3 linked regions of the Homo sapiens genome follow. The protein of the gene in region 2 interacts with the protein of the main gene of each other region in a pairwise test. Each region holds a gene or a part of one and is shown on either strand. Other genes may lie near its edges. The genes, in order: TSR2, GAS2L3 and FNDC3B.

The links.
Region 1: the proteins of GAS2L3 (region 2) and TSR2 interact in binary tests that used the Homo sapiens proteins (3 or more experiments, as listed by UniProt).
Region 3: the proteins of GAS2L3 (region 2) and FNDC3B interact in binary tests that used the Homo sapiens proteins (3 or more experiments, as listed by UniProt).

Annotation. Positions count from the first base shown.
Region 1 is NC_000023.11:54,445,865-54,448,582, reverse strand, and holds the end of TSR2 (pre-rRNA-processing protein TSR2 homolog), read right to left. Parts: 3' UTR 2,475-2,718; coding exon of another isoform or gene 2,169-2,474; 3' UTR 1,273-2,168; coding exon of another isoform or gene 1,129-1,272; 3' UTR 551-1,128; downstream 1-550. Other genes in the region: FGD1 (FYVE, RhoGEF and PH domain-containing protein 1), read left to right, coding at 1,129-1,272, 2,169-2,474. UniProt on the Homo sapiens protein: May be involved in 20S pre-rRNA processing.
Region 2 is NC_000012.12:100,572,387-100,576,536, reverse strand, and holds the start of GAS2L3 (GAS2-like protein 3), read right to left. Parts: upstream 2,854-4,150; 5' UTR 2,752-2,853; intron 2,191-2,751; exon of another isoform or gene 914-2,190; intron 1-913. UniProt on the Homo sapiens protein: Cytoskeletal linker protein. May promote and stabilize the formation of the actin and microtubule network.
Region 3 is NC_000003.12:172,042,578-172,046,230, reverse strand, and holds part of FNDC3B (fibronectin type III domain-containing protein 3B), read right to left. Parts: intron 1-3,653. UniProt on the Homo sapiens protein: May be a positive regulator of adipogenesis.

The sequences.
Region 1 (2,718 bases), on a different chromosome or scaffold from region 2:
ATTTTACAAACGAGGAAACTGAGGCCCAGAGGGGTCATTTGCCCAAATTACACAGCAAATGAGTGGCAGCACTGGATTTTTTTAAAATTAAAAAATTGGCTGGGCACAGTGGCTCATGCCTGTAATCCCAGCACTTTGGGAGGCTGAGGCGGGTGAATCACCGGAGGTCGGGAGTTCAGGACCAGCCTGACCAATGTGGAGAAACCCCATCTCTACTAAAAACACAAAATTAGCCAGGCATGGTGGCGCACGCCTGCAATCCCAGCTACTTGGGAGGGCTGAGGCAGGCAAATCGCTTGAACCTGGGAAGCAGAGGTTGCGGTGAGCCAAGATCGCGCCATTGTACTCCAGCCTGGGCAACAACAGCAAAACTCCGTCTCAAAAAAAAAAAAAAAATTTAAAAATTGTCTTTTGTTATTACAAAGTAGGATAAGTAGACCAATATAAACAAAAAATAATAAAATACCGTATCCCTTCTACCCAAAAGTTACCATTGTGAGGGCTTATCCTATCTTTCTAGGCATATATGCACAAACACACATTTTGGAGATTTTTTTAAAAACAAATCTAGGTATTTATTTAACACTTAAAAGAGTACTTACTCTGTGCCAGGAACTATTCTAAGCACTTTGCATATATTAATTCATTTAATTCTCACATCAGCTCTCTTTGCTCTCCAAGTCAATACATTTTCATCTAGAGCTGGGATTCTAAGCCAGACTTCATTAACCACCCACATACCCCCTTAAAACCACAATGCTAGATTACCTCTCAATGAGTGTAGGAAATGGATGTGATGAAAGACAGAAAAAAGCATGAGGCCTAAATGTGTGAATGGCTTGAGGAATGAATGCTCTGACTGAAGAAAGAATGCCTGAGATCCGCACACTCCTTCCACTGGCCTGTAGAGGCAGCAGCCGTTGCCCAAATGAGGCAGACGAACCTAGCTTTGAATCTCAGCTCTAGCTGATTCACTGGGTGGCACTGGACAAATCACTCCTGCCACCTGAGCTTGAGCGTCTTCATCTGAGATAGGAATAGCAGTCCCTACACTGAGGAGGTATTAAAGCTAGGAGGAGCCAGGCTAGGCCTTCTGTCAACATTGATGCCCGGTGTCTCTGGCCACAGAAACAGGCCTCAGTGGCTGCAGAGAACAGCGTCATCTGCAGCTTCCTGCACTACATGGAGAAGGGTGGCAAAGGATGGCACAAGGCATGGTTCGTGGTCCCTGAAAATGAACCCTTGGTGCTGTATATCTACGGAGCCCCTCAGGTATGCATCCTACTCCTTCGGGTCCTTTCAGCCACCTGGCAAAGCCAGATCCAGTCCTTGACCTCTCCTTGGCCTTGGAAGATAAGGTGAGCCTTGGAAGATAAGGTGAGCCTATCTCTAAGAGGAAATCAGAACCCCAACCCTTGAGAGACAAAGACTGGCTAGAGACAAGGAGTGGTTGTGGTATGTAGGGAAAACCAGGATGAGTTGTGGGCCTGGCTTCCTGGAAGGAGTAGAGATGGGGAACTGCTAGGTCCAATTTGGAGTGGGTAAGAGTATGCAGATGGGACCGAGCGCAGTGGCTCACGCCTGTAATCCCAGCACTCTGAGAGGCCGAGGCAGGTGGCTCACCTGAGATCAGGAGTTCAAGACCAGCCTGGCCAACATGGTGAAACCCCGTCTCTACTAAAAATACAAAAATTAGCCTGGCGTGGTGACGTGTGCCTGTAGTCCCAGCTACTCAGGAAGCTGAGGCAGGAGAATTGCTTGAACCTGGGAGGTAGAGGTTGCAGTGAGCCAAGTTCATGCCACTGCACTCCAGCCTGGGCAACAGGGCAAGACTCTGTCTCAAAAAAAAAAAAAAAAAAAAGTATGCAGATAGGGGCAATAGCATAGACAAAGGCCTGAAAACATTATTTGGTATGCTAAAGAGACTAGCCCAGCAGTTTTGTGAGAAGAGGCGGGGGTGGGGGGAGACAGGTATTTAAACCAGCCTGCATTTTAGCCCCAGTTCTGACATGTTCCTGTTGATAACACTGGAGCCACGGAAGGTTCCTGAGTAGGGGAGTTCCTGAGTAGGGGACTGAAGACAGAGCATATGCAAAACCAGTTAGAAGCTGGGGCGGGGGAAAGGTCTAGCCCCAAGGTGGCCCCAGCTCTGTCCCTCCTCCCGCCAGGATGTGAAAGCCCAGCGCAGCCTGCCCCTCATTGGCTTCGAGGTGGGACCGCCCGAGGCAGGGGAGCGGCCTGACAGAAGGCATGTCTTCAAGATCACCCAGAGCCACCTCAGCTGGTACTTCAGCCCTGAGACAGAGGAACTACAGCGACGCTGGATGGCTGTGCTTGGCCGGGCGGGCCGAGGGGACACGTTCTGCCCGGGGCCCACACTGTCTGAGGACAGGGAGATGGAGGAGGCACCGGTGGCTGCTTTAGGAGCCACTGCTGAACCCCCCGAATCCCCCCAGACCCGAGACAAGACCTAGAGGGTTTGGGACAAACTGGGAGCCCCCACCCCACACTCTAGTTGCCCATGTCTGATTGGGGGCTCTAGCCCCTTCCCTCCCAGCTCAGTCAATACTTGAACTCCCATCACGGGCACTTTCAATCCCGAATGCTGGGTCTTGGGTTTTTTAATTCATCTTTTCACAAAACGTGGGCTTTTAAAAAATATATTCCTACAGTGATGTCAATTTTTATTAATCCCTGTCCCCAGGGAGGGTGGGAGCC
Region 2 (4,150 bases):
CATTGCATGACTCATTAGATCTGTAAAGGTATATCTAATATCATTCTATGTCCATTGCATGACTCATTAGATATGTACTGGTATATCTAATATCAAAGTATGAAAACCAATAATAAGAAGTAAAATACACACGTTACTGTAAGAAAGTAAAACATAAGAATACATATTAAGTTTAATCTCTTACTTTCCTCATCATCAACAGCAAGCTCTTTAGTAATCTATCCAAATAACTGAACCTTTCCTATTATCTCCAAACTTAAATTGATAGGAAAAAAAAAGGAAGAGTAGCTTAGTAAAAACATAGTGAATAAATGAAAATTAAATGAGAAAATATAAATGAGGAGATACTACTTTTGAAACAGCCAATTCTCCAAACATCATTTCTATTTATCAAAATATAAATTAGGAACATCATTTCTGAAGTGGCCATTCTCCAAACATCAAAACTCCAAAATATCACTGTTTTTTTTACTAATAGCATGCATTTTGTTGACACTATTCTTTTATCACAAATTTTGATTTACCATCACAAGTTATTTCTCATTATTTTAAAATTCATAATGTATTCAAAATAAACCCATACCCACAGCAGAAATTAATCTGGGTCACACTGACAATCCAGTGCAGGAAAGTTACTTAATGTTAGGAATATAAAGGTGTGTAACACAGAAAAAAGCCTGCACTGAATTCCAGGTGAACCCTAGTAAGTGATTTCCCTTCTTTGAGCTTCAGTTTTGTCCCCTATAAAATAGAGATAACGGCCAGGCGCGGTGACTCATGCCTGTAATCCCAGAGCTTTGGGAGGCCGAGTCGGGCGGAACACGACGTCAAGAGATCGAGACCATCCTGGCCAACATGGTGAAACCCCGTGTCTACCAAAATACAAAAATCAGCTGGGCGTAGTGGCACACACCTGGAGTCCAACTACTCGGGAGGCTGAGGCAGGAGAATCGCTTGAACCCGGGAGGCAGAGGTTGCAGTGAGCCGAGATCGCGCCACTGCACTCCAGCATGGGCGACAGAGCGAGACTCTGTCTCAAAAAAAAAAAAAAAAAAAAAAATAGAGATAACATGAACTACATTTTAGGATTACTAAGAGGTTTAACAATAATATAAGTAAAGAACACAATACCTGATATATAATGATGTGTTTGATAAATAGTAATCCACGTGTTTATGATGTGTCAGATACTGTTTTAAATGCTTTACATGTATAATTTAGTCAATAAACAATAATTATCCCTATCTCTGGTACTGCCTTCACCTTCTACCTCTCCCCATCCTTTGGGGAGAGCTCAAAACTTTTTGTCTAAGTTAAACAGCAGAGAAATAATAATAGCTATGTATCAGGCACTGTGCTAAATTAGTTACGTGGAATTTCATTTAATCTTTACAACAATCCTCTCAATAAAGTAGGAACTATTATTAACCTTCTTTCACAGACTAGGAAATTTAGGCTTAGAAGGATTAAATAATGTGTCTAAAGTCAGATATCCAATGAAGTCTGATTTCAGAGCCCCCCTGCTTAGCAACTCTGTCACGCTAAAAAAAAAAAAATTACTACTTCTAATTCAATGTCAGATAGCAAACACCTACTGTTCAATGACAGTTGGTTTCTAATGAGATTTTGAAACAGATGAGTCAGACAACAGGTATCGGCATCTACACCAGATCACTAGAGTTTCCACTTCTGTCATTTGAAACAGTTCCAATTTGTTCCCAAAGGGAATCTGAGGTGGTGAGAATTTCAATTTCTAATCATTTAAGTGCCAAGACAGGTGATCAGATAGCAATTCACAAAGCGGTTCTGTTGTTCTTGTTGTTTTTGTTTGTTTGTTTTTTGCTCTTCACACAAGCGAAGCAAAACCCAGGCTCTGACCTAAAATCATCTCTTTGCAACCACTGGGGATCAGCTATTCCACCATGCCATGCCACAAAGCACTCAAATTTACAACATTCAATCCCTCGGTGTGAAAAGATTAGGAAAGGAACCACGGGTGACTGCATAGAGGAGCACGCCCTCCAAAACTTTCCTCTGACTTCCAAGGCACTCTACAAGCCTTCCCTTTCTTTTGCCAGCCTCTCCCCGGGCAGTCCTCCAAACTGAGGGTTGTGGGCGGAAGGCATCGCGCAGGGTCTCCAGCTCTATTCCCCAGTTCCGCACATGTGGGCGTTCTAGACCCTGCATGGACTGGGAGAAAAAACAGGGAAGAGCCTATAAACCTTGCTAGAGGGCAAGAATAACTGTCTGTCTCTTTCTCTTTGCAGGGCCAGAGACTTCATCAATTCTTTCCGAGGATGATGAACAGAAAAAAACAGACCCTCTAAGTGCCAGGCGCTTAGGGATGAGGGTGCCCCTGAAGATCCCACAGTACCTTCGGGCTCTGATACCGCTCTGGATTTAAAGCAGGGCGAGTAGCGGCTGGATCCCTCCTCCCCAGCTGAGCTCGCCCACACCAGCAGCCCCAACCGCCCCGCACACCTGTCGCCCCTCTCTCCGCACTTGGGTGGACAGGTGAAGGCAGGCGCAACGTCACCTTGACGGCCCCAGGAGCCAATCAGAGCACGCGACTGCCGCAGCCAGGCAAACGCAGAGCGTACTGGCTCCCGCAGCCGGGAGACCCAACAAACCTCAGCTTCGGGGCCTCAGAGAGCGGGGGGCTCCTGGAGCCCTCAGGCTGAGGCGCGGAGGCCCCGAGACAGCGCGTAAAAGTTCGCCAGGAAAAGAGAAGACAAACAGGGAAGTACTCACCAGGCGCAGGAGGGTCACTTCTCCCAGCGGGGCGACAACTCGGCTCAATCTGTGCGGGGCCAACACGCCCCTGACCAACCGCCGCCGCTGCCGCCGCCGCCTGGGCCTCAGGGTCAGTAGCCGCTGGCCGCCGCCTGTTTCGAAGGGACCAATCATAAGGCGGGGGCGTGGTCTGAGGCCCCGCCCCCGGGCTGCCGGGAAGCACGCGACCCGTGGGCGCTCGCCTGTCAGCGCGTCCAGCGCTGCGCCTCCGGGCGTCTCGGAGCTTCGGTGGCCAAGTCCCTCTGTTCACTGAAAGGCGAAGTGGTTCAGTCAGAGCAGGTCCTCCGATCTGGCCTTTCAGCGACAGCCAGTTCGAAAGCCACAGCCCGTCCTGTTGTTCCCACAGGCCTGAGAGGTGAATGAACCTCGCCTGTAATAATTGCTTCTGAGCGTCCTGGAATGTTGCGGTGCAGCTGAAGGCGCTTCCCTGAGTTTTATCCTGGTCTGTTAAGAGCCGCTCCCAACCCCACATCCACTCGGGAGCTGGCTGACCTGAGGGCGCCACGGTTTCCAGAGACGCAGCCTGGAACCCAGCAGGAATGGGGGTCCTCAGCAGAAATCTTTCAGAGAGAGGCCCCTCTTCTCAGGTGCGGAGGGATGAGGAGGAATCCTGTAGTCCCAAGTCACAAAAGGAGGATGTTGACTCTTCAGCAAACACCGGAGCCTGAAAACAAAACAAAACAAAACAAAAAAACAATGAACTTCAACGTAAGGGATGCTTACTAGCTCCCAGGGTTGAAATAAAGCCGAGACTAGACATCAGTGTAACAATCCCAAGTCGGTTATATCTGTAAATGTGGCTTGTTTCATAGCAAAAAATAAAATAAATAAATAAATAATTTTTTAAAAAAATCACTGGCTTTGTCCCCGAGGCCTGTGTTGCAGCCCAGGCCCTTCTTTTTTTTTTTTTTTTTTTTTTTTTTTTTTTTTTGAGACAGGGTCTTGCCCTGTCACCCAGGCTGGAGTGCGGTGGCACGATCTCGGCTCACTGCAGCCTTGATCTCACGGACTCAAGAGATCCTCCCACCTCAGCCTCCAGAGTAGCCAGGATTACAGGCCTGTGCCACCACACCGGGCTAATTTTTGTGTTTTTTGTAGAAATGGGTTTTTGCCATGTTGCCCAGGCTGGTCTTGAACTCCTGGGCTCCAGTGATCCTCCCACCTCGGCCTCCCAAAGTGCTGGGATTACAGGCGTTAGCCACCTCACCCGGCCCTATTCAGTCTTTTAGCCTTCCTCAAATCATGTCTCCTCTCTGGGCCTCAGGTCTCCATCTGTGAATGGTGGGCACTGAACTGGAATGACATCTCTCTCTAGCATTTATTCCTTCCTTTACTCAACAAAAACAATGAGATGTAC
Region 3 (3,653 bases), on a different chromosome or scaffold from region 2:
ACTGGGGAGAAACAAAGAAAAATTCAACAATCGATCCATTTTCAAACTGACAAACATCCTCATCTGTATGTAGATGGCTGATCACGACTGTCTATCGATCTTATGTGATTTATACTTGGTGGTTTTAAAAACATTTCTGTCCCCTGATCTTCAACTGGCACCCCACATACCTTCTGTTTCCAAGAACTGGTCCTTGACATTAAACCTGCACCACAAACAAACTCCCCTCCAGGTGAGCTTGTTACTAGGGTCTGGCATCTCACTGGAGGTACCTTGCAAAGTGCTCAACTACCATCAAGTCATCCTTCCAGTTGGGCCTGTGCTTGTCTACCTGCCCCTATCTAGCCACAATAATTCAAGCATTCTCTCCCTCTTTACAACACATAATGCCATAACCATAATATATATTTTAAGGCAAAGTGTATATATATATATAGAGAGAGAGAGAGAGAGAGAGAGAGAGACACTCAGTAAACTAAAGTACAAAGCTTCTCCTCAACCACCTAAGTGAATTCTCAACAGCCTTAAGAGTGAGAATTAATTTACTTGAAAATAATGTCTTACCATATAAATATCCCACTTAATGGATTAACCTCGTTAACAAGAAGAAAAGGCAATTGTGATTTCTAAAGTGGAAAGGCAGGTAGGTTGCAAAGACTCCCCTACACTGAAAATACGATTCTTTTCCATTCTCAGCTGTAATTGCTGAAAGCTCAAGTAATAGGCTAAGGTAACATACAAGGCCTAAAACCTTATTCCTTTATCATTCAGTACTGAACGTTCCTCTAAGAGACTGCACTTTTTCCCGCCACCTCAAAAACAGCCCTGAATCAAGCCTGGCCTGCCCACTTCAGCAACACTAGCCCAGCTACAGACCAGCTTCCCAAAAACACAGATATGGGACAACTTATGTATAGTACAACTTTGCAGAGGTCACAAATCACCTATTCCATTAGGAGTGGGGTAAAATAAAATACAACATCTAAAGCTTGGACCTTGTTTACTGATCACAAAGAGAAAAATAAATCATTTTTCAAACTGTCCAAGCACAATTTGGAGGTCTCTGAAAATGTGCAGAGAAATACCATAGCACCAGCTCAGTTTTAAACTCTGGAATATAATGAACTATGGAGTTTGTATAAGGCTTTGCCAAACACTTCTCAATACACTGACTCATTAATCCCTTGTGACACCATTTGAAAAGGTACGAGTTAGATCTTTCCTCCTTATATTAAAATGAGGAAACCCAGACTCAGAGAGATTCAAAAGCTTATCAAGGACCCAGCTAGAAAGTAAAGTCACTCCTTGACAGAGGAGATATTCTGATTTCAAACTGATGCTCAGATGTGGCCCTCAATTTTTGTCCATCATTTAAACATCTTTATGCCTTAAGATTATAGTACATTTCTCATTTGTATTAAGCACTTGGGGATGTCCTACAAATCAAACCATATGTCATGGGTTAAATCATGTTTCCTATATTTGTCACACTCACTAGGACACTATAATTCTATTTATAACATGGTTCTTATCCTGAAAATAGTACAGTGGTATCTTATCCTTGAAAATAGTACAGTGGTCCCAATGGTCAGGAATGGGTATGAACAGGATGTTTCAGTTATCTGAACAGTCTCAGTAACTGACGCCTTACCTGCAGTTGAATTAACGATTTTCAAAGAGCTGGAAGCAATGTAATTCACATAACACTAAAATAACATAGAACAATTCAAAGATAATTTACAGACATAGGTCCTCCAGGATATGTCTAGAGTTAAGACTATGAACTGCAATTATCCCAGGACAGTACCATAACTATGGAAGATACAATAGATTCAGATATATTTATACTGAACCTGGCAGTTGCCTCTTAAAAATCCTAATAAAAAGAGATTACATTATAATTTGCCTTTTCCTGAGGGTAGCACACCAAAAAAAAAAAAAAAAAAAGAGTTGGAATTTTCACTATTCCATACAAAATCAGAAAGTTGTTGAAATTCCTTTTAGCAAATGAAACTCTAAAATTCAATGAATTTAAATTAAATCCACTAATCAGAAAATGATTTGAACATCTGCCATCGGACAGATCTTTCTTACTGTTTTAATCTTACACATATTCTTCCCAATTCATGGATGAATCCAATGTGTTTGATATTTGATTTCTATACACTGAGAGTAAAAGAATAATTTTAATTCTTCAGGTTACTTCTGCAGCTACATAAGGAAAAGTGAGTAATGGTTTACTGATACTTACAAAGTCTGAAAAGAACTGTCCAATGAACGGATGGACGCGGGTATGAGAGGATCGTTTTTTTCAGCTTTCTATTAGTGACTTTTCATATTGCTTCCTATTTGTACTCTTATTACACTAAAATAACCAACAAGTTCTGACTACTTTTTCAGCAATTCCTATGCACAATTCCTATATTAAACCAAAAAAGATACAATTTAAAGATTTTTCCACCAGTTTTAACTATGACATGTAAACATTGTTTTTAAAACCAAAGAGTTAACAAATAATGTGCGTATTTTATCCACTCTACATATGAAAGCAAAGTTGAGCTATAGCTAACTCAGTCTTTAAATTCCATTTAAGGGCTGAATGTAACTTCTGATATCGTAGAAGAAAGAAAAATGAACTAAGAGATCTAAAGAGCAGTATGCAGCCTGGACAACCTAGTGAGACCTGTCTCTACAAAAAAACAATAATAATAATAAATAGCCTGGCATGGTGGCGTGCACACCTGTAGTACCAGCTACTGGAGAGGCTAAGGGGAGAGGATCACTTCAGCCTGGGAGGTGGAGGCTACAGTGAGTGAGCCAGTGATCATGCCGCTGCACTCCAGCCGGGGTAACAGAGCGAGAGTCTGTCTCAAAGTAAAATAAAGAGCAATATGACCAAGCTACATGTGAAAGATTTGGGAGTCAAAAAGTTCTACACTTTGCTCTCCAATATGGTAACCACTAGCCACAAGTGGAAATTTAAGTTTAAAATAATTACAAGTAAATAAAACTTAGTCCGGGTGTGGTGGCTCACGCCTGTAATTCCAGCACTCTGGGAGCCCGAGGCGGGTGGATCACCTGAAGTCAGGAGTTCGTGACCAGCCTGGCTAACATGGTGAAAACCCGTCTCTACTAAAAAATACAAAAAATTAGCCGGGCGTGGTGGCAAGCGCCTGTAATCCCAGCTACTCGGGAGGCTAAGGCAGGAGAATCGCTTGAATCCGGGAGGCGGAGGTTGCAGTTAGCCGAGACCGCGCCACTGCACTCCAGCCTGGGCTACAGAGCGAGAATCCATCTCAACCAGCAAGGCGGAGGTTGCAGTGAGCCGAGATTGCGCCACTGCACTCACTCCAGCCTGGGCGACAGAGCGAGACTCCATTTCAAAAAAAAAAAAAAAAACTTAAACTGTTGTTCCTCAGTCCACTAGCTACATTTCAAAGACTCAGTTACATGTGGCTTGTGGCTGCTATGCTGGACAGCACAGACAGAACCATTTCCAACACTGAAGAAAATTCCATTGGATGACACCATTGGTAGCTACGTGATCTTATGCAAGTTACTCTCTCTCTGTAAATCTCAATCCCCTTGTTTGTAAAGTGTGCATAACACAACCTAAATCGAAAATACTAGAATTTTAATGAGATAATGTATAA